Homo sapiens: one gene and its partners. The protein of the gene in region 4 purifies or fractionates together with the protein of the main gene of each other region. This does not show direct contact. Each region holds a gene or a part of one and is shown on either strand. Other genes may lie near its edges. The genes, in order: FTSJ1, CHM, VPS13C, RAB11A, CIP2A, EXOC6 and TM9SF2.

The links.
Region 1: the proteins of RAB11A (region 4) and FTSJ1 purify together in Homo sapiens (co-immunoprecipitation; one large-scale study listed by IntAct). This does not show direct contact.
Region 2: the proteins of RAB11A (region 4) and CHM purify together in Homo sapiens (affinity purification with mass spectrometry; 2 studies listed by BioGRID and IntAct, with this or other methods). This does not show direct contact.
Region 3: the proteins of RAB11A (region 4) and VPS13C purify together in Homo sapiens (affinity purification with mass spectrometry; one large-scale study listed by BioGRID and IntAct). This does not show direct contact.
Region 5: the proteins of RAB11A (region 4) and CIP2A purify together in Homo sapiens (affinity purification with mass spectrometry; one large-scale study listed by BioGRID and IntAct). This does not show direct contact.
Region 6: the proteins of RAB11A (region 4) and EXOC6 purify together in Homo sapiens (affinity purification with western blotting, with the first as the bait; one study listed by BioGRID). This does not show direct contact.
Region 7: the proteins of RAB11A (region 4) and TM9SF2 purify together in Homo sapiens (affinity purification with mass spectrometry; one large-scale study listed by BioGRID and IntAct). This does not show direct contact.

What each region holds. Positions count from the first base shown.
Region 1 is NC_000023.11:48,479,199-48,482,698, reverse strand, and holds part of FTSJ1 (tRNA (cytidine(32)/guanosine(34)-2'-O)-methyltransferase), read right to left. Parts: intron 1,549-3,500; coding exon 1,496-1,548; intron 1,411-1,495; coding exon 1,357-1,410; intron 1,274-1,356; coding exon 1,171-1,273; intron 1,068-1,170; coding exon 984-1,067; intron 297-983; coding exon 193-296; intron 103-192; coding exon 1-102. UniProt on the Homo sapiens protein: Methylates the 2'-O-ribose of nucleotides at positions 32 and 34 of the tRNA anticodon loop of substrate tRNAs. Requisite for faithful cytoplasmic translation.
Region 2 is NC_000023.11:85,964,059-85,968,206, reverse strand, and holds part of CHM (rab proteins geranylgeranyltransferase component A 1), read left to right. Parts: intron 1-4,148. UniProt on the Homo sapiens protein: Substrate-binding subunit of the Rab geranylgeranyltransferase (GGTase) complex.
Region 3 is NC_000015.10:62,050,078-62,054,225, forward strand, and holds part of VPS13C (intermembrane lipid transfer protein VPS13C), read right to left. Parts: intron 1-4,148. UniProt on the Homo sapiens protein: Mediates the transfer of lipids between membranes at organelle contact sites. Necessary for proper mitochondrial function and maintenance of mitochondrial transmembrane potential.
Region 4 is NC_000015.10:65,875,350-65,879,497, forward strand, and holds part of RAB11A (ras-related protein Rab-11A), read left to right. Parts: intron 1-1,982; coding exon 1,983-2,178; intron 2,179-2,412; coding exon 2,413-2,606; intron 2,607-4,148. UniProt on the Homo sapiens protein: The small GTPases Rab are key regulators of intracellular membrane trafficking, from the formation of transport vesicles to their fusion with membranes.
Region 5 is NC_000003.12:108,579,149-108,583,296, forward strand, and holds part of CIP2A (protein CIP2A), read right to left. Parts: intron 3,936-4,148; coding exon 3,829-3,935; intron 3,055-3,828; coding exon 2,960-3,054; intron 2,364-2,959; coding exon 2,267-2,363; intron 541-2,266; coding exon 418-540; intron 279-417; coding exon 133-278; intron 1-132.
Region 6 is NC_000010.11:92,854,858-92,859,005, reverse strand, and holds part of EXOC6 (exocyst complex component 6), read right to left. Parts: intron 1-4,148. UniProt on the Homo sapiens protein: Component of the exocyst complex involved in the docking of exocytic vesicles with fusion sites on the plasma membrane.
Region 7 is NC_000013.11:99,542,714-99,546,861, forward strand, and holds part of TM9SF2 (transmembrane 9 superfamily member 2 precursor), read left to right. Parts: intron 1-1,149; coding exon 1,150-1,282; intron 1,283-4,148. UniProt on the Homo sapiens protein: In the intracellular compartments, may function as a channel or small molecule transporter.

The DNA of each region.
Region 1 (3,500 bases), on a different chromosome or scaffold from region 4:
GGCCAGCTGCCCCTTCCTCTTCAACGTGCAGGCCTCCTGGTATGGTGGCGAGATGGGGGGCTGTGTGGGTGGAGTGTACTTGTACTCTGAGCCGCCCTCTAGCTGCAGGGACAGAGGGGTAGGGAGATGGTGAGGACCTGGTAACCTAGGACAGCCTCCCTCCCACCCACCTACTGTTGGTTGGGCACTCACGTCCAGTGGGTAACTGCGGTCCGAATCATAGGAGCTCAGGTCCCCACAGGTCACAAAAGGCACAATGATGCGGGTGGGACCATCCAGCTGGTTGAAATCTGGGTCTTAGGAACAGGGGGAGACAACTGAGGACAAGGTCAGGATGCCTGGGGCCAGTCATGACACAGGCGGCGGTATGGCTGCCAAACCCTCCCCACATATCCACCAGCTACTCTCTTCCCACCCCACCAGAAATCCTTCATTTGGTTCAGATCACCTCCTCGGGGAGGCCCTCCATAATCACCCCTTCTAAAACATCGGTGCCCTGCTATTTTTCACTGCATTTATGTCCACCTGATATTGGATTATATGCTGCCTGGATGACGTCTCCCTCACTCAAATGTCATCCCAGGGGCAGGCTCTGTCTCTTCCTGCTAGAGGCTTAAGGGGCAAAAGTTTCACACCGAGGAGGTTTCCACCTGGGACATGACTGAGATCTTCCTAGGAGAGAATGTCCTTAGGCAGGTGGAGTCTCCACTGGGGCAGGGCTCAGGATCCTCCTGGGATGGAATTTTCACCAGGCCCAAGAGTTACCACTAGAGGACTGCCTGGGCTGAAGCTCCTCCCGGGACAAAATACCCATAAAGGGGTGGGATTTCCATCAGAGAATGGGGCTAAGGATCCCCTTGGGAAAAAAATTCCCATGAGGGGACAGAGCCTCCCCCAGGGGGTGAGACTGTGGGCCCTCATGGGACCTAGATTGCATAAGGTGTGGCAGAGTCCCCCAGGGTGGCCCATGCTCCAGCTCTCACCGTAAGAATGGTCCAGCAGGGGTTTGCTCAGGTCCGGGATGAAGCCCTCGGGAGGGTCATAGCCCTGACAGACAGCGAAGGCCTCTGCCAGGGGAAGGTGGAGTGAGGCATGACTGCCGCTTCCTCCTCGTGCAGTCGGCGTCCCAGAGATCCCCCTCTGCCTGCCTGGCCCCTCCACCCCACTGACCGATGCTAGAGTTCCGGCTGCTCCTGGGCTTGGCACACAGCACGCTGGAGAAGAAGACCTGCAGCTGGCTGTAGAGGAGCGTCACATCCCGGCCTCGGAATATCTGCAGGGTGAGAAGGCAAAGACAGCGGGTGAGGGTGGCCCTCAGCGACCTCCCTCTACTCCACCAAGTTCCTTGAGACTTACCTTGGCCACAAAGCAGCCCCCTGGCTTCAGGACATGTGTAGCAATGTTCAGAGCCTGTGGGCAGGACAGACGGCTGAGGCTGAGGTGGAGACAGCCAGGAGGGGGCCAAAGTGGGTCAGGGGTGGCCAGGGTTACTCACAGCTAGGAGGAGCTGGGCCTGCATATACTCATCAACATCATGGAGACCGGTTACTGTGGCAAGAGGAACAGCGTTAGGGGGGTCCCATCTGGCTCTGTGCATCTTCTTGTACCACACAGATCAGACACTAAATACATTTTCCAGGCTGTCTTACTGCTAAGGTTCCAGATGCAAATTACTGTCTGCCAACTGGATGCATATTCTGAGCTCCTAACCCTTAGGAACTCATTTCAATTCTAAAACAACCTCACACACAAGCATCATTATCATTTCCACCTCCAGCCCAGACTGTTCCTCTGAACTCCAGATTCACAAATCAGATTCTACATCTCCAATACATCCACAACCAAACTCCTGACCTACCTCCCCAAACCTGCTCCTCCCACCATCCTCCCCATCTCATCTGAGCTTTCTAATTGTTCAAATCCAAAACCTTAGTCACCTCTGATGCTCCCCCCGCATCCTCTCCTCACACCCACATCGAAGCCATTAACACATCTACTTTCAAAAGATCTGACTTGATCTTCTCCTCTCCACCACTGCCCTCACCCATTATCACTTGCCTGGACTACTCCACCCCGGAGCCCCTGCTTCTGCCCTTGGCCCTCACACAGCTCATAGTAGCCCAAGCCCAGCACAGTCCTCTTCTCCTCACAACCCTCTCATGGTTTTCTCCAAGCTCTCATCTCGGTGAAAATGCCAACAGCCTCACCATGGCCCACGAGGCCCTATAGGATCTGTCCCCTGTTACCTCTCTGATGTTACCTTTTACCACTCTCCCCCCCTCACTCTGTTCCAACCACAGTGATCTGCTTGTCATTACTCATACATAGCAAGCACCCTCCTGCCTCAGGACCTTTGCACGGGCTGCAATTTTTCCTGGATTGCTCTTCCTCCAGACATATCCATAGCTTACTCCCCCACCTCCTTTAGTCTCTGCTGTTAAGTCAGTGAGGCCTTCCCCATCCACTTGATTTAAAATTCCAACAGGTACTCCTGCTTTCCTCCTGCTCAATGATTTCCCTATGGTACCCATCCCCCACCCCACCTTTTTTTTTTGAGACGGAGTTTCGCTCTTGTTGCTCAGGCTGGAGTGCAATGGTGCGATCTCAGCTCACTGCAACCTCCGCCTCCCGGGTTCAAGCGATTCTTCTGTCTTAGCCTCCCAAGTAGCTGGGATTACAGGCACATGCCACCACACCTGGCTAATTTTTGTATTTTTAGTAGAGATGGGGTTTCATCATATTGGTCAGGCTGGTCTCGAACTCCTGACCTCAGGTGATCTGACCACCTCAGCCTCCCAAAGTGCTGGGATTACAGGCGTGAGCCACTGTGCCCGGCCTCCTCACCCCGTTTTTTTAGAGAGAGGGTCTCACTCTGTTGCCCAGGCTGGAGTGCAGTGGTGCGATCAAAGTGTACTGTAACCTCGACCTCTTGGGCTCAAGTGATCCTCCCACCTCAGCCTCCTGAGTAACTGGGACTATGGGCATGCATCACCATGCCAGCTAATATTTTAAGACAGGGTCTTGCTATGTTGCAAGGCTGGTCTCAAACTCCTGCCTCAAGTGTTCCTCTCACCTCATCCTCCCAAAGCACTGGGATTACAGGTGGAAGCCACCATGCCTGGCCCCATCCCCTTTTAATGGTACAGAGCTGAATCATTTATTTTCTTTCCCATTTGCTCCCACTAGAACATCAGCTCCATGAGGTTAAAGATTAATGGAATTTTATTCATGAATGTTTTCCCAACACAATAGGTGCTCAGTAAATGTGTGTTGAATGGCTGGCTGGCTGAAAATGAATGAACAGTGCAACGGAATTGGACAGTTGCAGAGAGATGAGAGCAGGGAAAGGTAGACAACAGACATGAAACTCAAAGGGTGGGGTGCAAGTGGGAGGAAGAGAGAGGCAGAGAGAGAACAGGCAGCAGAGGTAGGGAGAAGTTGCCAGATGTGGGAGAAAGCTGAGTGCGGAAGGGAGAGGCAGGGAGTAACTGAAGAGGTGA
Region 2 (4,148 bases), on a different chromosome or scaffold from region 4:
AATTTCTGAATAGTCTGATTTTTGTAATTCTTATGAATAGCCATTAAACATTTATTTTAGGAATAAACAGCTGGGTAGCAGTATAATATATACTGTGAAAATCAGAAATAAATGGCCTTAGAACAAAGTATAAACATCAAAGTAAAAGAATACAATGTCTGCAGCAAGTCGTATTGGGTAAGAGAAGGTGCAAATGGCTGAAAAATAAATGGTGAACACCTGTGCTGAATAAATTAAACACCTGTTCCTCAGTTTTTCATTTGATTCCTCTAAAAGGCTGTTACAAGGTATTCATAAGACACATTTACTTTGAGGTGTTTCTTTGTTATTACTATTAATTGGGAAGCAGTACTAGATGATATCAGAATATATACCTCCAAACTCTCAGAGTAGTATATGAATTTTGGCAATTAGTGAAAAATGCATTTACAAAAAGCAGTGTTAAGCAGTTTTTATTAAGAAAAATTATCTAAAAAATATTGTTACATTATAAATGACCTTTGGAATTAAAGCTAGCAATGTAAATGACACTAAATTTAATTTGTGAAATCAATTTTGATAGTGAACATTTTTATAAGAACTAATGATGCAGATTGTTTTCCTTTAGATAAACAGTCTGCAGCTTAAGATGGTTCGACTTAATGATTTTTCAACTTTGTAATGGTTTTATTGGGGTATTAAATGCACTTTGTCTTACTATATTGGGTTTATCAGGACGTAACCCCATCATAAGTCGAGGAGCACCTGTGTATGTTAAAATCATTGTAATATCTTAGAACTCCAAGGTTCATTTGAAGGCTTATAATGCAGCTACATTGTTTTGTAATTGGTAAATGTGTTTTTATAGTTTTCAAACACTTTTAAATTAGTAGAATTGAACTATTACTGGATTCTGAGGTTTTCTCTGAAAGGTTGAATATCTTTTTAAGAAAATGTCTTTTACCACAGTATAAAGTTTTAAATTTGGGGAAAGATAACCCTTTTAGATGAACAGAATTTTGCTTTCTGAGGATGTCAGTGGAGTTTTAGGAGCTTTTGGGTGTCTTTATATTTTCTCATTAGGTATTAACTTCAACCTTGGCAGAACTCCAAAAATACTGTGGTTGTTTTTAATGGAAAGTGAGGACAGTGTTGTGTTTTTATTGCTTGTGTTTTCCGTAGTGCTAGGAATCTCACCAAATTATAATGTTGAGAACAGTAAAACGATAGTTTATTGATGTAGAAAAAATTTCCGAAGAATAATTTCTTCTCTTCGCTTATACCTTTAATTAAGTATTTTGACTTATATCTTCCAGGTTGTCCAGTACTGGTTAATGTATTTCATTCACTCTATAGGGCCCCCATCACAGAATGTAATAGAGAACCACTGACTAGATCATTTGCTATGCTCAGTTTTCACAGTGTCATCATCATAGTCTGTAATAAGAGAAGTTGCCATATTTTGTCTTATCTGTAAAGTGTAATTAATTATCCTTTCTTAAAATTAAAGGCATGGAACTTTTGCTTTAAGAGTTAGGCATGGAACTTTTACTGAAAAACAAAAAATTAGGTGTGGAACTTTTGCTGAAAATTGTCCCCTTAGATCCCTCATGTAACACACTTTAGTTTTGTTGGTTTTCAAGATAATAAAAGTGAATAAGAGTGTGAACAATTCTGTAGAAAATATATAAATCACCTTTCATATTATGACTCTTCATTCTTAATGCTGTTAATAGCGATGCTATTATGTGCTTATATGGCCAATGGGCTTTTGTCATGTGAATGCAGAAAACCTAGGTATACAGGTTTTGAGTTGACTGTTGAGCTGTGGGCAGTTTAACAATATCTTATTTTTGAGTAGTTTTTTTTTTTTTTTTTTAGACGGAGTTTTGCTCTTGTTGCCCAGGCTGGAGTGCAATGGGACGATCTTGGCTCACTGCTACCTCCGCCTCCTGGGTTCAAGTGATTCTCTGGCCTCAGCCTCCCAAGTAGCTGAGATTACAGGTGCCCATCACCACGCCCAGCTAATTTTTGCATTTTAGTAGAGACTAGGTTTCACCATGTTGGTCAGGCTGGTCTTGAACTCTTGACCTCAAGTGATCCACCCACCTCGGCCTACCACAGTGCTGGGATTACAGGTGTAAGCCACCGTGCCCGGCCTGATTAGTATCTTATCTTTGATTAACCTTTTAGAGTTTATAAACTACTTTTCATATATGTTAGCTTCCTTATCTCACAACAGTTTCATAAAAGGTAAGGCAAATGGACTGATCCCCATTTTATATGTGGTGAATCAGAGAGATTAAATGACTTGCCAAGTGTTTCCTAAGTGATAAATCTAGGATAGAACAAAGTGGGTGTTTTCCTCACTTTGGTTTCCTAGATCTCAAAAATATTCATGTAACATTAATGATATCAATTTGTTTCTTCACTAGATTTTATTAGAATTACTATAACAGTAAATATGGCATTTTATTTCTTGACATTTGAGTGTTATTCTATCATTGTCCCTCATTTTTTTTTGTAGTGTTCATTGTGTTATTTTTAATAAGGCACTTCTTTTTTTCACTTAACTCGGACTTTCTAATTTACAATACCGTGTTTTTTTCTTGGCCTTATTTTTTGTGTTTTTTGCAACAAGTTTGTTTCGCATTTGAAACAAAAATAGTCTGCACGTATAAACCATTATTAATTAAGCATTTATTGGATACCACATCTATGGAGCAGTGTGGTAGGTGTCGTGAGGGGCACAGAAGGAGCGGTGCTAAGGTATTCCCTCAAGGAATTACAGTCTGATTTGGAAGATAAAGGATATACTGGAAAACTAAAGGACTATTAAAAAGGAATGGATAAATACATGCAAGGTAAACTGCATATGTGTATTATGGGAGCATGGTATAATAGAGTGATGAGTGTAATTGGAGTAAGGAAGACTAATTGGAAGTTAAATTTAAACTTTTTCTTAAAGTAGTTTGCTAAAGTATGTGATTATGTTTGAGAATGGAAGAATTGTGATATTATGCAGAGTGGGAAGAAAAGGACAGAAGAAACAAATGATATGAACCAAACTGTCATGATTTGACAATTAGAATTGATAAATTCGGAGTTAGAGATGCCATGTTGGAAAGTAGGTGGAGATGAAACCAGAAGATTAGTAAATAAGGAAGGTGGTTTGGTTTAGAGACAGGAAAAGGAAGATTTTTTTGTGGGGTATTTGATATAAGGAAGGGCTACTGTTAGGGCTACTGTTAGTCAACTAGCAGATTTTTACTTGCCAAGACCAATCACATACAAGGCATTCTGCCAGGTATTGAGCAGTGTGGCAACTCAGTGAAAATAGTGGGTTCTGTGGAGGATAAAATATCACAGAAATTCATAAAGCAGGCAGACTGAATGGGAGCCTGTTCTATAAATCAAGACAATGGTGGACTGAGAATGTTAGCTCCAATAATAAATTTGGAAATGGGGCTTCGACTAGAGTAATAGACATCAGTACTAAAATAGGCAGGAAATTATACAGAAAGGTCCTATTAGATACCACATTGTGATAGGCCAACTTAATCTTTTCAAGGCAGATATTTTTCCCTTTATTGAAGGTCTTCTGTCGTATCACCAAGTCAGGAATTCCTCAGTAATAATCATCTTTGATAACTACCACTGTTGAGTATTTACTATGTCCCAGGCACTGTGTCAGGCTCTTTGCATGCAGTACTTAATTTAATCTTCAAAACAACCTTGTGGTAGGTGGTATTATCTCTGTGTCATAGATGGGTAATTTAGGTGGTCTCAGAGAGGGTAATTTAGGTAATTACCTAAATTGAGGGTAATTTAGGTGGTCTCAGAGAGGATACATAAGTATCTAAGTTCGCAGAGCTTACTAGTCATATGGTCAGGGTTTGAACCAAGATCTGTTATTCTGAAGACTGTGTTCTTCATCACTGTGGTAATTTGCTTCCAATACAGTTCCCCTGTCTGTCTTAAATTCTCAAAAATGTGCATGTGACATGAAATCTTTATATCTTTCAAATCTTAATTTTGTTTCATATTTTACTGAAACATTAACAGATGAATGTTTAATGTCTGAGTCACATAAGCAAAACGTACACTGAACTTGATAAAAGGGGTAAGGGAATATATATATAAAGCCTGGTGTTTATTATTATATTTCT
Region 3 (4,148 bases), 3.8 Mb from region 4:
ACTGAATGCCCTTTATTTCCTTCTCCTGCCTAATTGCCCTGGCCAGAACTTCCAACACTCTATGTGTCTAATCCTTTAAAACAAAAAACAAACAGGGATATGTTAACTAATAATTGGAGATGAATAAACTTAACTCTGCCAGCAAGGAAAGCTCTAAAGCCAATCCCACAATCAAGTGGCTCTAATCCTACCAAGTCTAAACAGACTAAGGTGACAGATAAGGAAATTCTGTGAAGCGATCTCCCTTATGCTGGACTGACAGGCCCATGGGAGGAGGGTAGACAATATACACAGTAAGTAGTCTGTGCTTCAGAAGAGACCCCATATGATTCTCATTAATAAACTACATATATTTTGGATGTGCATACACTGCTAGAAAGTCACCATAGTTTCAAAGCCAATCTTGAAAGATATTTTAAGAAATATACTAAAAGGGCCAGGTGCAGTGAGTGGCTCATGCCTGTAATCCCAACACTTTGGGAGACCAAGGCGATTGGATCACTTGAGCCCAGCAGTTGGAGACCAGCCTTGCCAACATGGCGAAACCCTGTCTCTACCTAAAAAATACAAAAAAATTAGCCAGGCATGGTGGCAGGTGCCTGTCATCTCAGATACTCAGGATTCTGAGGCAGAAGAATCACTCGAACCAGAAGGGCAGAGGTTGCAGTGAGCCAGGATCATGCCACTGCACTCCAGCCTCAGTGACAGCCAGAGCAAGACCCAGTCTCAAAAAAAAAAAAAAAAAAAAGTAAATCCTGGATCAAAACTGGATCAAAATTTAGTATTCTTCAACAGTGAACCAGAAGATGAAAATGGAAGTAAATTAGCAAATGACATGAAGAGTTGGAGTCATCGCAAAAAAAAAAAAGTAGAAATAGTTGCTAGTTATAGAAAACAACCAAGCTAGTGTATTTATGAATAAAAATCAAATGGTACTAGCACAATAAGGAAAAGCCTGCCTAAGTCCAAGAATGGCTTTTTAAATACATAATGGCCTACAAAATAAATGTAAGAAATATAGTCCTATTGTTAAGTACCTCCAACCAGAAATAATCTCTCTAAACTTTTGCAGAAATTTAGGCTATAGCTTTCTTATGGTGCGTAACACTTAACTTTATATAAATCCCCAGTCTGATTATAAACTTCTTACTGATTCTCCTCAGAGTAGGTACTCGATAAATACTGACTTCAGAATGCATATTGTACTGGGGTGGAACCAACTACAATAAGGTCATAAATCTTTATATTTTAGAAAACACTTTCAGATGTATAACATTACTCAATCCTCACAGCCTCCTGGGCAAGAAACAGGTTGTATACATTAAGCAATAGAAGCTGAGGCTTAGAGAGGTTAAATGACTAGCCCAAGAATCCTATGGCAACCTAATAGTAAGTGGCAGTCTCAAGGCTCAAATCTTATAAAACTCAATGCTATCTTCAGAATAACACTGTTCTCCCGAATAGCAGAGCATAAAGCGTATAGGATTTTAATTCAGAAGGTAATTCGACCTCCCTGGACAACAAAAATGCCATAAAAGAATCAGACTCAGCATTCACAGGCCAGCGTGGTTGTCGGTTCCACTTTTGGTCTCTGTATTTGCAAAGAGACGTAAAAAAATCCAAAACAAAAAGGATAACTAAAATTAGTATAACAAGGGCACAGGCAGAACGGTAGGATAGAGTCAAGGGGGTTATGTTCAGAGCATAACCAGAAGAAAACGTAGTGCCACAGGGAAAAACAGATGCAGGAGATGGTATTACAAAATGGTCATTTTAGTACTTTTTAAAAATCTATTTTTTTCCTCAAAAGACAGAAATTCACAAGTTATGATTTAGAACTATTTGGGACCATAAAGATTTTCAAATCTAAGCCCCTCTCACTTTATACATGAAGAAATTAAAGTCTAAAGAGATCTGGTAGTTTATCCAAGGTTATACAATTTTTTTGTGGCAGTACTAAGAATAGAATCTATGTCTCCCAACTCCTAGGTCAACTTTCTTAATATAAAACATAGAGGTTAATCCAAAACTGTGATTAAACACAAAAACCATCCAACAAACAAAAATGCCATGCCATAATCCATGAAACTAGCTTTGCATATAAAGAATAGTGAAATAAAGAATGCTTTGTATTTATTTTTTAAGATTTTGTTTATGTATCTATAACATAAACATTATTTAGTTGAAAGCATATCTGAATGTTCTGACACAATTCATTTTCCAGGGAGGTGAGCTAAAGTAGATGACTGAACAGTTTTTTAAAGCAAAGCATGAATCAAATTATTTTAATGATTTATGTTTTAGTAAAGAATACCAGGCCTGGTGCGGTGACTCACGCCTGTAATCCCAGCACTTTGGAAGGCTGAGGCAGGTGGATCACAAGGTCAGGAGATCAAGACCATCCTGATACGGTGAAACCCCGTCTCTACTAAAAAATACAAAAAAATTAGCCAGGCGTGGTGGCGGGTGCCTGTAGTCCTAGCTACTGTGGAGGCTGAGGCAGGAGAATGGCGTGAACCCAGGAGGCAGAGCTTGCAGTGAGCCGAGATTGTGCCACTGCACTCCAGCCTGGGCGACAAAGCAAGACTCCGTCTCAAAAAAAAAAAAAAAAAAAAAAGAATACCAAAGAAAATATTATAGCTATTCATTTCAAATGAATCTAGCTAGTCAACCCAAATTAACCAATCTAGACTCCTTTTAATGAGTTCACAGTGACTTTGTCTTCAGAGAGGAAGACAGGAAAGAGAAAGGAAACAACTCTCTCACTCTTCCCATTTCCCTACTGAAACAGGAAGTTTTGACAAAGGAAGGTAGAAAGCTGCAACATCACCACTGAACTTTCTCCCTTTCAGTTCACTTCAGGGATCCCATAATATTGAGTAATGTGGTAGAGCTTCCTAGCAGAATGGTTACCAAAATACCAATTCTCAGTTTTAGTTCTAGAAAAGGAGTTAATTTTTAATTAGTAATGCTACTTAAATATGTGAACAGGTGCTTAAATTTAAATTTTTAAGCACCGCTTTAACTGGTAGTAACTGAGCCTAAATATGTATTACACTAATGACCTTTTCATTATTGTTTACTTTTATATGCCATAGGACAAGCTAATGAGAAATGTGGCCTCCACTACACCAAGTGCTGGCTGGGAGGAAAAGACTAAAGAAAATCCCTCTACAGGTTTAGAAATACCTAGATACTGACATCTTTTATGTGTCAAAGCCAAAAAAAGCAAAAAGAGCTGCTTTTTCTTTCATTCTCAAGCTGCCCTACAGGTACCTGTTAAGACAATATATTACAGTATATTACACTTGGACCCACAAATATCAGCATGAGCCTGGAACTTCATTTATCTTGTCACTGTCATTGACTGTGGCTCTTTACTCACCAATATCGGGTGAAGAGCAAAAAGGAAAGATAAAGATACATTATTTAACTACCTTTTCTCTCTATGAATGCGGAGGAAGTGGCAGTACCACTCATCCAATGAAGGATCTCACGTTGTTCTTGCCTTGCTCAAATCACAGAAGTTTAAAGACAGAAGAGATGACCTTGTCTAACCTTTCCACTTACAGATAAGCAACCAATGGTCACTTGTCAGAGACATGCCAAAAGCCACACAACTAGACAGAATCAGAGATGGAATAAGATTAAAGAGGTTTGCTCATTCCCAGTCCAGTGTTCATTCTCCTTTCTTATGCTGCACTGCTCCAACAATATCTGGCAGCTCAAGGGGAAGTGTCAAGAGTGGGATAAACTGTCAGGAGTGGGATAAACAGCACGGGTTCAGTCTGGTTTGCAGGGCCACAGATTCTGAGGGCATTGCACTTGGCTTCTATTCCTGGTCACCAGAGTCACCCTTGTATCTAACACATCACAGTTCCTATGTTGATTCCACCTGTCCAGTGGAATTAAGAACAACAGAGTTCCGAGTACTGGAGGATTTTCCTGCTGACTCTCCACAGTAAATCATTTTGAAAAATCAAATTGACAAAGGTTCTACATTGCAACAATACTACTCAAATCATATTGCAAAAGATGAGGCATTTCAACATACCTTTTCAAATATATGTTACTCTTAAAACAATTATATCCTGGACACATCTCAATAGCTAAGGGCTGTGAAATTTATCTATTGGTACCAGTTTGTG
Region 4 (4,148 bases):
TGTACTAAGAGGCAACAGTGAATGTATCCTATTAATAATAGACTATTAACTGAAACTGAGATTTGACTTCATATCCAGAATGGTGGACCTTGGAAACTAGTATATCAACTAACCATCCTATAAAATTGAAAGTGCATTGCTTTTGTACATCACTTTAATAACTTTGACATTTTCTTCTGATATCAAATAAAAGCATGTATGTGTTTGCCACAGCATCTTTGACACCCTCTAGTTGACTCTCTAGTTAGAAATAACCATTCTTTGTGCTGCATTGGATTCACTGCCTCCTGAATGATTTCTTGCTGAATCAGCTGACTGAGAAAGCCAGAAAGATATGCATTTGATAATGTACTCTGTCCAAGACTGTCCAGAGGCTAGCTTATATCCACTCCTGTGGCAAGGAGGGAATGTATAATGGACTCTCTTTGCCCTCTGACCAGAATGCAGTGAGCTCTCAGTTTTTACCATTCTTTCCACTCGTACCACCATCCCAGTCTCTTTAGTAAGGAATGGTCTTACTCCTTGGCCTTATTTTTGTATGTTTGATTTTCTAGTCCTGATGTCTAAATCAATTAGCTAGTTTAGATAAGAAGAAGTCTTAGTAGTCAAAAGTAGGAACGAATGTAATGTTTCCTGAAATGCTGATACCAATTTTTACAAAGGAAAAAATATCTAGCTCAGATTCTATAAACGTGTGAACTCATTTTGAACTTTAAATTCAGATAGAAAATGTTTTAAAACAACTTAACTGCCTGTTTCTCCATTGTTTTTGAAATTCTTAAGCGTAATACCACTTTGAGTGAAAAAGAATCTCCATGTATCTAGTTAGTAAATAAACTGCTGCCTATAGAAATCACAGGAAGCAAATTCATCTAATCAAGACCTATTTTCAAAAAAATCATGGAGTCATAAGTGAAAGTATATGCCCTCCTTGCTTTGTTGTATTTTATTTTATTTATTTTTTTAAGACAGAGTCTCAGTGTGTCGCCCAGGCTGGAGTGCAGTGACACAATCTCGGCCCACTGCAACCTCTGCTTCCCGGGTTCAAGCTATTCTCATGCCTCAGGCCCACAAGTAGTTGGGATTACATGCGCCCACCACCACACCTGGCTAATTTTTGTATTTTTATAGAGATGGGGTTTTCACCATGTTGGCCAGGCTAGTCTCGAACTCTTGGCGTCAAGCAATCCGCCCACCTTGGCCTTCCAAAATGCTGGGATTACAGGTGTGAGCCACCACACCCGGCACTTGCTTTGGTTTTGACTCACAGTATGTCAGAATTATTAGTTTCCTAATACCCCCTGTTTATCTGTAGTGGCTTGGGTTTTTTTGGCAGAGGGGTCTCTAACTTTGAACCAATCTGATAAATGCAACTATTAAAGGTCATTTTAGTTTCTGTGATCTGTATGGTGATGTTTATAAACCCTATGCCTCATATGTTAAATGTTTTTCATTTTGCCTAGGTCTCAGTCCTGAGGTCACACCCAGTCTTTGATGAAACGAAGTATATTCATTTTGTCCTTCCCTACCCACTAACAGCCTTTGTTGTTTTCATTTCTGATACATTACATTTTAATATCATAAATTATTCATTTAGTTTAGGATTTATCTTTGAAGTTGTTATCTTCTAAAGTAGTAAGATTGGCATAGCATTGACGGTAATTAATGCCTGTCATCAATGCCAAGGGCATCTGTGATTAAAACTGCATGTTTAAGACAGGGTACCGTATCTGTGCTAAGCAGATGATATGTGGAAGTCATGCAGGTAGAAACAGGTTGAAAAGAATAAATCGGTTTTATTGATTGGTAACTGGTCAAGAACATGCTGTTCAACCCCCTACCCCCATTCCTTTTTAAAAGTCATATACCTTATTTTTCTTGCTTTATTTACTCTGAAGCCAAACTTCATTCTGTTGAAAGCATAGTGGTGTTCTGAATATGTTTGCCTCATTCATCTGACATTGAATTCTTTGTCTTTCCAGTTGTCCTTATTGGAGATTCTGGTGTTGGAAAGAGTAATCTCCTGTCTCGATTTACTCGAAATGAGTTTAATCTGGAAAGCAAGAGCACCATTGGAGTAGAGTTTGCAACAAGAAGCATCCAGGTTGATGGAAAAACAATAAAGGCACAGATATGGGACACAGCAGGGCAAGAGCGATATCGAGCTATAACATCAGCGTAAGTCTCATGGTTTTTAAGTTCTGTGAAATGGGTTGCCATCGAGTGAATTAGCTGACTTTTGGTATTGGAAAAAGAACTGTTGTTTTTTTCTTTTAAGAATTCTAGTATTAGGAATCCTTAGAAATTTATTTATAAGTATGTTTTTAAAACTCATGATCCATATTTTGAGTTCTTCCTGGTGTTTGCTTCCATCTTGTGGTTTTCTGATACTAAATATGTTTCTGTTTTCAGATATTATCGTGGAGCTGTAGGTGCCTTATTGGTTTATGACATTGCTAAACATCTCACATATGAAAATGTAGAGCGATGGCTGAAAGAACTGAGAGATCATGCTGATAGTAACATTGTTATCATGCTTGTGGGCAATAAGAGTGATCTACGTCATCTCAGGGCAGTTCCTACAGATGAAGCAAGAGCTTTTGCAGGTTAGTGATAGGAATTCCATGATATTTCTTACCATTGTGTCTTGTGGTTTTGATACCTTCCAATGAGAGTAATAGGTTATAATAGTTTCAGAGAGGTAAACATGAATGCTTAGCAAGAATTGTTTTGAAAGTTTGTGATGACTGTATAGCTTTTTTGCTTTGAGTCATTAAAACACTAATATTTTGCTGCCAAAAAATGAATATAAACATTGTATATTCTGTCTCTTTTTCTGTTATGTTTCTGTGTTTACAAAGGCTGCTGTACGTGAGCTCTATGTGAGTGAAAGGCAGAGGCTCAGGGAGTGTCAGGGACCAACAGGGATGCAGCTGCTTAGGAGCTGTAACTTTTTGGCTTCATAAAGAATTCACGTGTCTCTTGCCCCTGTTCTGGTAGGGACAGCATGCCAGAAGACAACATTGTGCATTGTGGCTAGTGAAAGTCTTGCGGCCGGGCGTGGTGGCTCATGCCTGTAATCCCAGCACTTTGGGAGGCTGAGGTGAGTGGATCATGAGGTCAGGAGATTGAGACCATCTTGGCTAACATGGTGAAACCCCGTCTCTACTAAAAATACAAAAAACCGGGCGCGGTGGCGGGCGCCTGTAGTCCCAGCTACTCGGGAGGCTGAGGCAGGAGAATGGCGTGAACCCGGGAGCAGAGCTTGCAGTGAGCCGAGATAGCGCCACTGCAGTCCGGCCTGGGCGAAAGAGCGAGACTCCGTCCCAAAAAAACAAAACAAAACAAACAAAAAAAGAGAGAAAGTCTTGCCTTTGCACTAATGCTTATGCTATGAATAACTTTCTGTAACAGTTTTTTAAATTTCCCATGCAAGAATAGCTTTATTGTAAATAATATGGCTACAACATACGGAATACTATAGCCAATGTAGTTGATGGAGAGGATAGCAAGAGATGGAAATAACTGGGCACTTGATACATTTTTACCACATTTTAAGTGGTGTCATTCGTCACTAGTGAGTAGTACTTAGATATAACAAGTATTTATTTTAATTAAGGAGCCAATTGACAATTTCTCACTTTTTTTTTTTTTTTTTTTGGGAGCCAGGATCTCACTCTGTGACCCATTCTGGAGTGGAGTGGCACAGTCAAGGCTCACTGCAGCCTCGACCTCCTGGGCTCTAGTGATCTTCCACCTCAGCCTCCTAAGTAGCTGAGACTGCTGGTGTGTGTCACCACGCTCAGCTAATTTTTAGTATTCTTTATATAGAGAGAGCAAAACCTCTCTCCAGTGTTTTGCCATGTTGCCCAGGCTGGTCTTGAACTCCTGGGCTCAAGCAATCCGCCTGCCTTGGCCTGCCAAAGTCCTGGGATTACAGGAGTGAGCCACCATGCCCAGCTCTCTTGCTATTATTTTTAATCTATTAAAGTGTAAATATTAAAGTGTAAGTAGGGTCGGGCATGGTGGCTCATGCCTGTAATCTCAGCATTTTGGGAGATGGAGGCAGGAGAAACTCTTGAGGCCAGGAGTTCAAGACCAGGCTGGGCAACCTAGTGAGACCTGCATCTCTACTTATATAAAGAAGT
Region 5 (4,148 bases), on a different chromosome or scaffold from region 4:
CAAAACATTTTAGTCTACTGTGAATCAGTAGAATCCAAGTTTATTATATTTTAAGAAGACAATTCTGTTTATAACCAACACATCTTGGTTTAAAAATAAAAAAGTTCTAAAATTGACTGAAGTGAGTCATACCTGGTGAGATAATCAGCAATTTTAGGATTCTTAAGGAGATCCATCAGTAGGTCAACTGAATACTTTCTAGTTAGAGTGCCATCACCGTTTATGAGAATATTAAATATTAGTTGAAAAGTCTGATGAATGTTTCGAGCATGGAATAGCTTAAGGACAAATTAGAAAAAGCATATTAGACAAAAAATTAAGTTGACACCATCCTAAAAGGTAAAAATAAAAAAGTCTCAATGACTTTTAAAATATCAGACTATAAACTTCAGAATAAATTTGAAAAATTGTATTTACCTTTTCCCCCACCTCTTCATTTAATGTCAAACTGGATAATATTGAAAGTGCAAACACAACCACAGTTAAACTACTATGGGCCAACAAGGTGATAAGAGTTCGATAAAAAGATTTCACATTACTCTGAGGAAAAAAAAGTTAAAAAATAAATTAGAATTATAAATTTTATGTTTTGGTTTAAAAAGTATATCTTGCACAGAGTGGGCAAACTTTTATTAAACATCATTATCAACTCTATTAAATGATTGTTGCATTTAAAAGATAAATGTTCTACAGGAGAAATTTAGATCAGAGATAAATTTAAATTCAAAAATTGTTATAAAGAGAGTACCTACAGAAAAAAATAATTTGGTAAATGCGTGCAAACGAGTTGGAGATAAATATTTCCAAAGTTTTGTCACCTTAGAATAAATAATTCAATGATGGTAAATCAGGGTGTCAATTCTAATAAAGGGACACATGCAGAGTGGAAACAAAAGAGCTACCTTAAATACTGCAGGATTTGTGTTAACAAAAGAACTGTAGCATTTGTTAGCATTTGTGTTAACAAAAGAACTGTAATGAGGAACTCTCATAATTGTGGTGGAAGCAAAAAAAATTCAGCAAATTTAAGAATTTGTTTTACGTTACACACCGTGGAGCAGCAATTAACTTTGCCATATTTGCTGATTAGCATTTAGATTTAAGAGATCACTGCATGTGTGAGCAAGATGGGTAGTTTCGTATATTGCTGACAGTCATATAGATAGCCACAATCTTGGTGAAGAGCAGTTTCTACACATGAAACTATGAGCAAATGTTTATTCTTCCTTATATTTAAGTGTTTCCTAAATATGAACATATGAACTTTTTTTTCAATTCAGAAATTGAAACACACACACACACACACACACACACACACACACACAGTTACTCCACCTCCAAAGTAAGACCAGGGCAGAAAAATGTAGCACTTGAACAAGTGAGATATTAAATTTAAAATCGAACGGGTAATGCTGAATAGCACAGCAGGGAAATTGTTCACCAAGCACCTTAAAGAATCAGTGACTTGCTTGATTTAATATACTTTGTTTTTTTTTTTAAGGATGGAGTCTTACTCTGTTGCCAGGCTGGAGGGCAGTGGCGCGATCTCAGCTCACTCCAACCTCCACCTCCCGGGTTCAAGCAATTCCCCTGCCTCAGCTTCCCAAGTAGCTGGGACTACAGGCGTGTGCCACCACGCCTGGCTAATTTTTTGTATTTTGGTAGAGACAGGGTTCACCATGTTGGCCGAGATGGTCTCCATCTCCTGACCTTGTGATCTGCCTGCCTTGGCCTCCAAAGTGCTGGGATTACAGGTGTGAGCCACCATGCCCAGCTGATTTAATATACTTCTAAAAGTGATTCAGTTAAATTCATTTGTGTGTCTTCATTTATCACAAGTACTGTTGGTTCATACTGAGCACTTAACTCATGAATCTTTCTGGTGGGGTTGCCATTGATTTTGTGGAAACACAAGACTGAGATAAATGGGACTGCCAGTGATGTGCCTCCCTTCTAAGAGCACAAAATAATTTAGTAATTCTTGTACTACTCAATGTAATAAATAATGGGATGCCATGCTGAGGAAAACTTTTAGAAATAAGTGTTTGCATTAACCCTTAACACACAGTCTTCAATACAACATACACGAAGGCTGAAGTGCTTCAAGTTATTTGTATGTCAATCTGACTCTTAATTTTGATGGGTCATCCGATAAGACACAGAATCCTTGTTCAAATTTGTTTTAAAGAAAAAGATAAATACAATTTTCTTTAAGCAGAGAATCTACCATAAAACAAGAAACATTAAAAAGAAATAAACTTCTTACCAATGTCTTTATGTGCGTTTGAACAGAAAGATTGTGCCGACAAAGATTTGCCAATAATCCTAGACAAGGCATTTTTAACTCATCTTCAGAAGATTGACTGTTGTTTTACATTGGTGTTTTGTTTAAAGAAAAAATAGTAAAAGAAAAAAAGCATTAACATTATTCTAAGTCAAAATGATATAGTTAAGTTTATACATTTCAATTCCCTTTTACACGCAAAAAAAAAAACTAATTAACATAAGAAGCCAGGGAAGCTTTGAATAGTATTGATCATTTATCTCATTTTAAAACCAAATTACCCTATTCAATTCCATCATGAAAACATGGAAGTAACTGTCAGCGTGGACCATGTGCTGTTTCATCAGTATATTTTCCTACAAGAATAACTACACAATTTTCAATTTCAGTAATTTTTTTCTGGCCAAATCAATTCAGTCCATAAATTTTTCTTATGAAAATTAAAGTTGCTTTACAATTTTTTTTTCCTTTTTACATTTTTTCACCAATGAATGAGGTCACATACTTTTACAACTTTTGATCCTTAAAATCATCTGGGCAGAACAAATAAGAATCGGAGTCTCACTCAGTTTATATGTTAGAAAATGTTATCTAAGAAAAATTAATCTACCACATGGTTGTAATTTAAAAATAAACAAATAAACTATTTGGTTTTATGTTTGATTGCATACTCACATGTGATCTATCAGGAACGTAATTAATTCATCTATATTGGCACCAGAATAGAAAATTTTGACATTATATGTTAACTTCTGTAGAAGTTGAATGCACTGAGAATAAGAAAATAGTTATAAATATAAAGATATAAAAACATTGCCTGCTTAAAATAATGGACTCTCAGGCACATTCTGAGCATGTCCTTTTCCATTTCCTAAAACAATTTTTTTAAAAAACACATGTAAAGTAATGTAAGAACCTTAGGGCTCTTCTCTCAATTCACACATTTCTACGTATTCTGTCTCAGAGCATGGTTATCAACCTTGTTCACTTAGTCATCTTAAACTTGAATGCAGTTTGAAACACACATGTAGTCCATCAATTAGAAGATACCCTTCTTCACATTTTATCACCTCTAAAACTGCATGTCAATTTAATTTGTGATGTTTTTCTTTCTTACAATTGATGACATTTTAGAGTCAATGAAATATGAAGAGCTTTGAATCTATATTAAATAGACTCTATCTACAGCTTTAATTTTTGTAGAACGTTTCCTCCACAGATTGAGACTAGATGCCAACTCACGTTACAATTTTAATATAAATAGCTTATGTCTCAAAACACAGACATCTGTGTTTATAAGTCAAAGCAGTTATAATGTAGATTTGTTTTTCTTCAATAGTGGTGATAGAAATGGATAAGCTTCTCTTCTCTAGAAACATTTAAATTGTATGTGTGCAACCAGCTTTTAATGAGATGAACTGTGCCTAATCATGTAGTATTTATTATATAGCATATATACACTGTAAGTCAGCAGTTTATGACAGAAACTATCAATTTTGATCTGACAGTAAGGAAAGGGGAATACACTGTGTGGGTCTGTATACCTGCAAAAACACCGAATCAGTGTGGCTGCTCCGACAAACCACTCCCGCCAGCACACTATTCAGATTATATGTATTCTGAAGACAATCTCTGGTTTCAATGTCTACTGCTATAAGTTAAAATAAAAGCACAAAATATATCATTTTCTTACAAGGTTTTGCAGATAATTCATACAGAATTTATTTCATATGAATTTATTATTAAAAAAGGTATGATATGGCTATTTTCTTATTTTCTTTATGATAACCCTCCAATTCAGAAATTCAAATGATTTCTCTATGTAAAATAAACTAGTATCAAAGAAAAAACTTGTTTACACATT
Region 6 (4,148 bases), on a different chromosome or scaffold from region 4:
ATCACCTGAGGTCAGGAGTTCAAGACCAGCCTGACCAATATGGTGAAACCCCATCTCTACTAAAAATACAAAAATTAGCCGGGTGTGGCGGTGTGCGCCTGTAGTCCAGGTACTTGGGAGGCTGAGACAGGAGAATTGCTTGAACCTGGGCAGCGGAGGTTGCAGTGAGCCAAGATTGTGCCACTGCACTCCAACCTGGGTGACAGAGCAAGACTCTGTCTCAAAAAAAACGAAAGAAAGAAATAGGCAATAGAAACTGCTTATGAGATGGCCCAGATGTTGGATGTAGCAGACTTCAAAGCAGCCATAATAACTATGCTCACAGAACTAAAAAGAAGAAGCAAAGGAAAGTATGATGACAATGTCTTACCAAATAGAGATGGATAAAGAAGTAGAAATTATTTTTTTTAATAATTGGAAATTCCAGAGTTGAAAAGTCAGTAACATAAATGAAAAATTCATTGGAGGGTCCCAACAGTGGATGTGAATTGGCAGAAGGAAGAATCAGTGAATATACAAGACAGTCTGATTATGCAATCAGAGAACAAGAGAGAAAAAACAGTAAGAGAGAAAAAAGAACAGGAGAGAAAAAAGAATAAGGAAAATGAACAGAGTCTCAAATAAATGTGGACATCATTAAGCACACCAGCATACATGAGATGGGAGCACCAAAGTAGAGAAGAGAAAGGAACAGAATGACTATTTAAAGAAATAATTTAAAATTTCCAAAATTTGATGAAAAACATTAACCTACATATCTAAGAAGATCAACAAACTCCAAGTAAGATAAACATAAAGAGATCCATATCCAGGTACATCATAGTAAAATAATGAGAGACAAACGGAAAATCCTGAAAACAACAAGAAACTGCTGATTACATAAGGGAATTCCAATAAGATTAACAGCTGACTTCTCATCAGAAATAATGAAGCCCAGAGGCAGTGGAAAGACATATTCAAACTGCTGGCCGGCGGAGGGGGGGAACCCGTCAACTAAAAATCTTACATATGGTAAAACTATCTTTCAAAAATGAAGATGACATAAAGACATGCCCAGATTTTAAAAAAACAGACAAACAACAACAACAAAAAAAACAGGAAATAGTTTCAAGCAGACCAGCCTTACAAGAAATACAAAAGGAATTTCCTCACGATTAAGAGTGAACTCAGATGACCATTTGATCACACACAGACACACAGACCAGACACACACAGACACACACAAAGAACACCAGTAAAGGTAACTATGTAATTATAAAATACAGTATAAATGCATACTTCTCATTTCTTATCTGATTTGTGGAAGCAGTTGCATAAAACTACATGTACATAATTGTATTGGTGGCATGCAACATATAAAATATATATAGAATATATGTAATACAATGGACAATCACAACACAAAGGATGTATGTGGGAGCAAAGCCATTCTGGAGTAAGAAAATGACACAAGATGACAACTAAAAACCCAGCAACAAATGAAAAGAATCAGAAACAGTAAATAAGAAACTTAATATAACAAACTTTAAAAATACATATTGGTCTCTGTTCTTCTTTCTGCTTCTTTAAAAGACAAAAAATTATAAAAAGTAACAATTATAGTAATGTATTATTGTAATAACACAAAAAAAGGGAAAGAAGGAATATAGCTATATAAGAGTAACATTTCTATACCTTACTGGAAATTAGACTAATTCTGAAGTAGATTCTGAGAGCAACCACTAAGAACTAACTTTTTTCTAAATTCCCAAAAAATCACTAATTAAAATATTACACCAGAAAATATTTGCTTAATGCAAAAGCAGCAGTAAAAAAGGAATAGAGGAGCAAAAAAAAAAAGGAAGAAAGAAATGAGACATAGAACACAAGAAAAACAGCAGATGTGAATCCAACTATGTAAATAATAACATTAAATATGAATAAACAATCAAAAGGCATAGGTTCTCAAATTGGATAAAAATAAGATCCAATGATGTGCTATCTACAAGAGATACACTTTAGATTTAATGACATATTTAAAAGTAAACAGAAAAACATATATCATGAAAAGAGCAACTATAAGAAAGCTGCAGCAGCTATACTAATATCTGACATAACAGACTTTAAAACAAGTCTAGAAATAAAGGATATTTTATGACGGCAAATGGTCAATCAATAAGGAATATATAAAGTATAAACATATATGCATCTAACAACAGAGCCTGAAAAGACATAAAAACTACTCATCATTCAATAATGGATAGAACAACTAAGCAGAAGACCAAAAGGGAATAGGAGACGTGAACAATACTCTAAGCTAATTAGACCTAACAGACCTCTATAGAATACTCCCTCCAACAACAGTAGGATACACAGTCTTCTCAAGGGAACATGGAACATTCTCCAGTACAGACTATGTTAGGCAATAAAATAAGCCTCAATAAACTTAAAATAAACTGAAGTCATACAAATTATTATCTCTGACTGCAATGGGATTAAATTAGAAATTAATAACAGAAGGACATTTTAGAAATTCACAAATATGTTGAAATTAAGCACACTTCTAAATAACCAGTGAAAGAGGAAATAATAAGGAAAACTAAAGATATTTTGAAGAAAGGTAAATGAAAACACACATGCCAAAAAGTTTTAGATGAAGCTAATGCTGTTCTTAGAGAAAAATTTATAGCTGTAAAAACCAATATTAAAAAATAAGAAAGATCTCAAATTAATAACCCAAACTTCCATCGTAAGGTTGGGTTCCATCATAATAAAAAAGAGAGCAACCCAACCCAAAACAAGCAGAAGAAAGAAAGTAATAAAGATTAGATCAGATGTAAATGTAACAGAAAAACAATAGAGAGGCCAGGTGCAGTGGCTCATGCCTGTAATCCCAGAAATTTTGGAGGCAAAGGCAGGCAGATCACCTGAGGTCAGGAGTTCAAGACCAGCCTGGCCAACGTGGCAAACCCTATCTCTACTAAAAATATAAAAATTAGCCAGGCATGGTGGCATGTGCCTGTAATCCCAGCTAGTCGAGAGGCTGAAACAGGAGAATCGCTTGAACCCAGGAGGCGGAGGTTGCAGTGAGCCAAGATCGCGCTACTGCACTCCAGCCTGGGCAACAGAGCAAGACTTCATCTCAAAAAAAAGAAAAAACAAAAACAATAGAGAAAAAAATCAATAAAACAGAGAGTTGGTTCTTTGAAAAGATCAACAAAATTGACAAACCTTTATCTAGAATGACCAAGCAAAAACAAAGACTCAAATTACTAAATTCAAGAACAAAAGAGAGAATGTTACAGAAATAAAAATAAGAAAAAGTTATGAGCAATTATATGTCAACAACTAAAATAATCTAAATGAAACACAACAAATTCCTAGAAAGACACAAACTATCAAAACTAACTCAAGAAAACTAGAAAATCTGAGTATACCTTTAACAAGTAATGAAATGGAATCAGTAATCGAAAACTTCCCAACAAAGAAAATACACATGGCTTAACTGGAAAATTTTACCATATATTTAAAGAATTAACATTAATCATTCACAAGCTCTTCCAAATGTGGAAGAGAAGCGAACACTTCCTAACTCATTCTATAAGGCCAGCATTACCCTGATACCAAAGCCAGATAAAGACATCACCAAAAAAAGAAAATTACAGAGCTGGGCATGGTGGAACATGCCTGTAGTTTCAGATACTCAGGAGGCTGAGGTGGGAGAACTGCATGAGCTCCAGAGTTCAAGACCAGCCTGGGCAATGTAGCAAGATCCTGTCTCAAACATAAATTAAAAAAAAAAATTTTCATGCCAGGCACAGTGGCTCATGCCTATAATTCCAGCTACTCGGGAGGCTAAGGTAGGAGGACTGCTTGAGGCCAGAAGTACAAGATCAGTCTGGGCAACACAGTGAGATTTTGTCTCTAAAAAAATTACAGAAATCCCTCATGAATATAGATGTAGAAATTCTCAATAAAATACTAGCAAACCAAATCCAACAGTATATTAAAGAGGATTATACACTATGGCCAAATGAGATTTATCCTAGGAATGCAAGGGTAATTAAACATGAGGAAATCAATCAATGTAATGTACCACATGAATAGAATAAAGGGGGGAAAAAACCCAAATACTCATCTCAATTGAGAGAGCACCAACTCATTCTATG
Region 7 (4,148 bases), on a different chromosome or scaffold from region 4:
TCTTATTAAATATTAAAATGATTTTAAAATACTCTGTTTATAATTGGCTGTTCCACATAATTGCTGTTAATGGAGTTTTATCTTAATTTGCACAGCGTTGCCATGTGGAACCAGGCCAGTGGTGACTCTGCTTCCACAACCCTGTCCTACTTCCCATCTCTTAGCACAGCAGTCAGAGTGAAACTGCTCAAACAGAAGTCAGATCATTTCACTCTTGAGCACGGCCCTCCAGGGACTTCTGTTCAGTCAGAGCAAGAGTCAGAGGCTTTACAGTGGCTTCTAAGGCCCCACGTTACCTCAGCACTCTGCTGCACCTGTGCCGGCTACCTTGCTGTTCCTCAGACCAGGCAGACATAGGTTTCCACCTCAGAGCCTTCACGAAGCTCACTGTTTTATCTGCTAAGAAGGTCTGCCCCTCATTTACATGGCTAGTTCCCTTACCTCCCTCCGATCTTTACAAAATGTGATCTTCCCATTGAACCCCTCCCAGCCATCACATATGTTACATCCTGTCCTGCACACACCCATACATCCTGTTTTTCTGTACAGCGCTTATTACCATCTAATGTACAGTATACTTTCCTGACTTATTTTGTTTATTGTCTGCCTTCCCAATGAGATCATGTACTCCTGAGAGTAGGAATTTTTCTGTTACACTCACTGTGGTATCTGGTGTTTTAAACAGAGCCGAGCTTATAGTTGGTGCTCAATGAATGTTTACATCCATGCTTACTGTATTAGCAAAGTAGCTAGAATATGAGAGCTAATGCCATTTGCTTATTGTGGAGATCATTAAGAGTAGGATGAAGAGGATAGAATGTGACTAAAAATCGTCATCAAGTCAGATCACAAAGCTTGACTTAGAGTAGAATTAGGTAGCAATCACATTGTCTTTGTAAAGTTTCTCAATAAGTATATTTGTAGACCTTAATGTCATAAATTTAAGAAACTGACATATAAGACAGTTCAGCAAAGCCATATTAAGCTCCATGAGTCAAGCTGTATTCTTCAAAATTGAAATAGGTACTAACATTTTTAAGTTTAAAAAAAACCTGTTTTCTGTAACAGCATATTCAACAGTGAACAAACTGTCTATAGTTGTCTTGTTGATACCATGAGACAATCGAACTGATTTCATTCCCCTTTTAGGAAGATGCCCAGGAAGAATTTGGCTGGAAACTTGTTCATGGTGATATATTCCGTCCTCCAAGAAAAGGGATGCTGCTATCAGTCTTTCTAGGATCCGGGACACAGATTTTAATTATGACCTTTGTGACTCTATGTAAGTGTTAACTGAAAATTTTCAAGTAGAAAATACTTTCTAAATACAGTAATTGCTTAAAAACCAGTTTTTCTGGCCGGGCATGGTGGCTCATGCCTGTAATCCTAGCACTTTGGGAGGCCAAGGCGGGTGGATGACAAGGTCAGGAGTTTGAGACCAGACTGGCCAATATAGTGAAACCCCGTCTTTCTACTAAAAATACAAAAACTGGGCATGGTGGCAGGTGCCTGTAATCCCAGCTACTTGTGGGGCTGAGGCAGTAGCTTGAACCTGGGAGGCGGAGGTTGTAGTGAACTGAGATTGCGCCACTGCACTCCAGCCTGGGTGACAGTGCAAGACTCCATCTCAAAAAAAAAAACAAAAAACACCACAGTTTTTCTAAGTGGGTAGGTAAGCCAGATTATTTCTGAGCATCCTTTAGGTTCTCAAAATCTAAGTGACTTGGGGCAGGTTTAGTTGCACCCAAAGACTGACTCTTGGTTTCTCCCTTCAGCTCTTCCTAGACCAAGCCTTTGTCAGGGAGGCACTGGGCTGGAGATGAACAGGTCCTTAAGACCATCAGCATCTGAGTCTAAACAGCCCAGAACTGGGACCATTTAGGGTCTCTTTTACCCAGGCATCGTGGGCAGGCACAGTCTGGTTAGGGTTCCAGGATATTCTTGGCTTCCACGGAGGGAGGAGGGTGGGAAAAGAAGGGATGGGGCAGGAAGCACTGTGTAGATCCTTCTCATCTGGGGAGGATTTGGGAAGCAGGATCTCTCTCCTCTAGGGAAAGCGAGTGTGTAGGAAAGACCTTCCTTCCTCCATAAAAAGATTCTCTTCTTTGAGCTACCTCAGCGACTTCAGAAATTGTATTTAAATTTTTGCCAACTAGGACAATTTTTTTTTTTAAATAAATGTTCCTTAGAGGTATTGATAGCCACAGGGATTGTTCTGAAACTACCTCTGGGTATATGTTAATTCCACTGTCTTCCAGTTTCCTTAATTGGAAGATAAAAAAGGTTTATGAATAGAATTTTCTAAATTTTACCTTTATTTAATGTATTTTACTTTATTGATGCCTGCTACTGATAAATAGCAACAAATGAATATACTGGGAGAATTCAGAAACTAACCTTTAATAATTTTTTAGTAAACATTTATTTTTTATGTTTGATTACATATTAAATACATAATACCACAGTTATTTTTGTTAGTAAAGTTGTTCCAAATTTTTATGATAAAATTAATTATATAAATGCTTTGCAAAGAGCAGTATCATTTTCAAATGTCTGGCACTGAATAAGTTTGGGAACCAAACTCACACCTTCAGGTTCAGTTTGAAGACTGACTAGGATATCTTTTTTTTTTAATCTACTAACAACTTAAGGAGATACAATTTTGATAGGTAGAGCTAGAATTTGTAACTATATCATACTAAAGAGAAGTTAAGTCATACTAAAGAGAATAGGTCAGGAAAAGGTGTCATAAAAAAGGTTTGGACAGAGGGTGGTAGGGTGAAGGCACTGGGTGACAGAGAGCCAAACTAGACTTAGAGCAGAATGAATGTTTGAAGATAAACTTCTGCTTTCTTTCTTTCTTTTTTTTTTTGAGACGGAGCCTCGCTCTGTCACCAGGCTGGAGTTCAGTGGCGTGATCTTGGCTTACTGAAACCTCCACCTCCTAGGTCCAAGTGATTCTTCTGCCTCAGCCTCCTGAGTAGCTGGGATTACAGGCGCCTGCCACCACGCCTGGCTGATTTTTGTATTTTTGGTAGAGACACGGTTTCACCATGTTGTCCAGGATGGTCTCAATCTCTCAACCTCGTGATCCGCCCGCCTCGGCCTCCCAAAGTGCTGGGGTTACAGGCGTGAGCTACCACACCCAGCCAACTCCTGCTTTCAAATCTTATTAGGAGCTGTCTTCTGCGATGCTCTGGTTTTTATTGCGGTCAGCTAGAAAAGTGAACTTTTAAGGAAGGAAAGTTTCAGAGAGTCTAGGATAGAATACGATGGGAATAATTTTCCTTAAGTCCTCAAATAGGAACTTTCTGCCGAAGGGCAGTCCATTTTTCAGGTCGAGGAGGAGAAAGGGGTTGCATTTTAGCTGAAATCTTGTACATCTTCTAAAGCTACCCTGATGTGTTTCCTGCTCATCATGACTCTGGTGCTTGTCAGAGGTGTGTGCGCGTGCTTGCTCACATACGTGCTTGGTCATGCACGTTTTAGGGGAAACAATAGGGGGGGAAACAATGGGGATTTTCTTGCTGAGCCTCCTGAAACTCAGTTCTCAGCAGTATCCTACTCACCTTGGGATTCTGAGCACCTTATAACTTCTGAGCCCCAGCTTAAAGCTGGGAATTTCTATGAATATAATATAGCATTTTAATTCTCATTAGTAGGAAGGCTTACATAGGGAAGAGCAAACAAAGCTAACCACGTGAATAAGGTAGGGCCAGGGTTTCCCCGTATTGCTGACAAGGTCCTTCCGTAATTTGTGAAAAGCTAATGGCCGTATGAAATCTTTCTCCCTCATTTTGTTCTTTCATTAGATTATATATGTCTCTTCTGTTTGAATGTTGTAAGGTTTTGGGTTTTTTTTTTTTTACCCCCAGAGGACCCCCATATTTTTTAATGAAAGAACAGTGGGAATATTTTGTAGTGGAAACATTTTCACTTATGTCAATTTTAAAGGCTGTACTTGAATCTCAGAAGAGTCAAATGCACTCTTGAGCATCCAGTCAGCCTCCCCTGATCACAGGAAGGATGTGATCTCTCATTCTGGACTCTGAGAAGAAACTTCCAAAGTGAAGTTTGCCTCATGTATGATCAGATTGGTGCAGTACAGTAAATATTACTAAGATTGTGTAGAGCTGCATGGTAGGAGA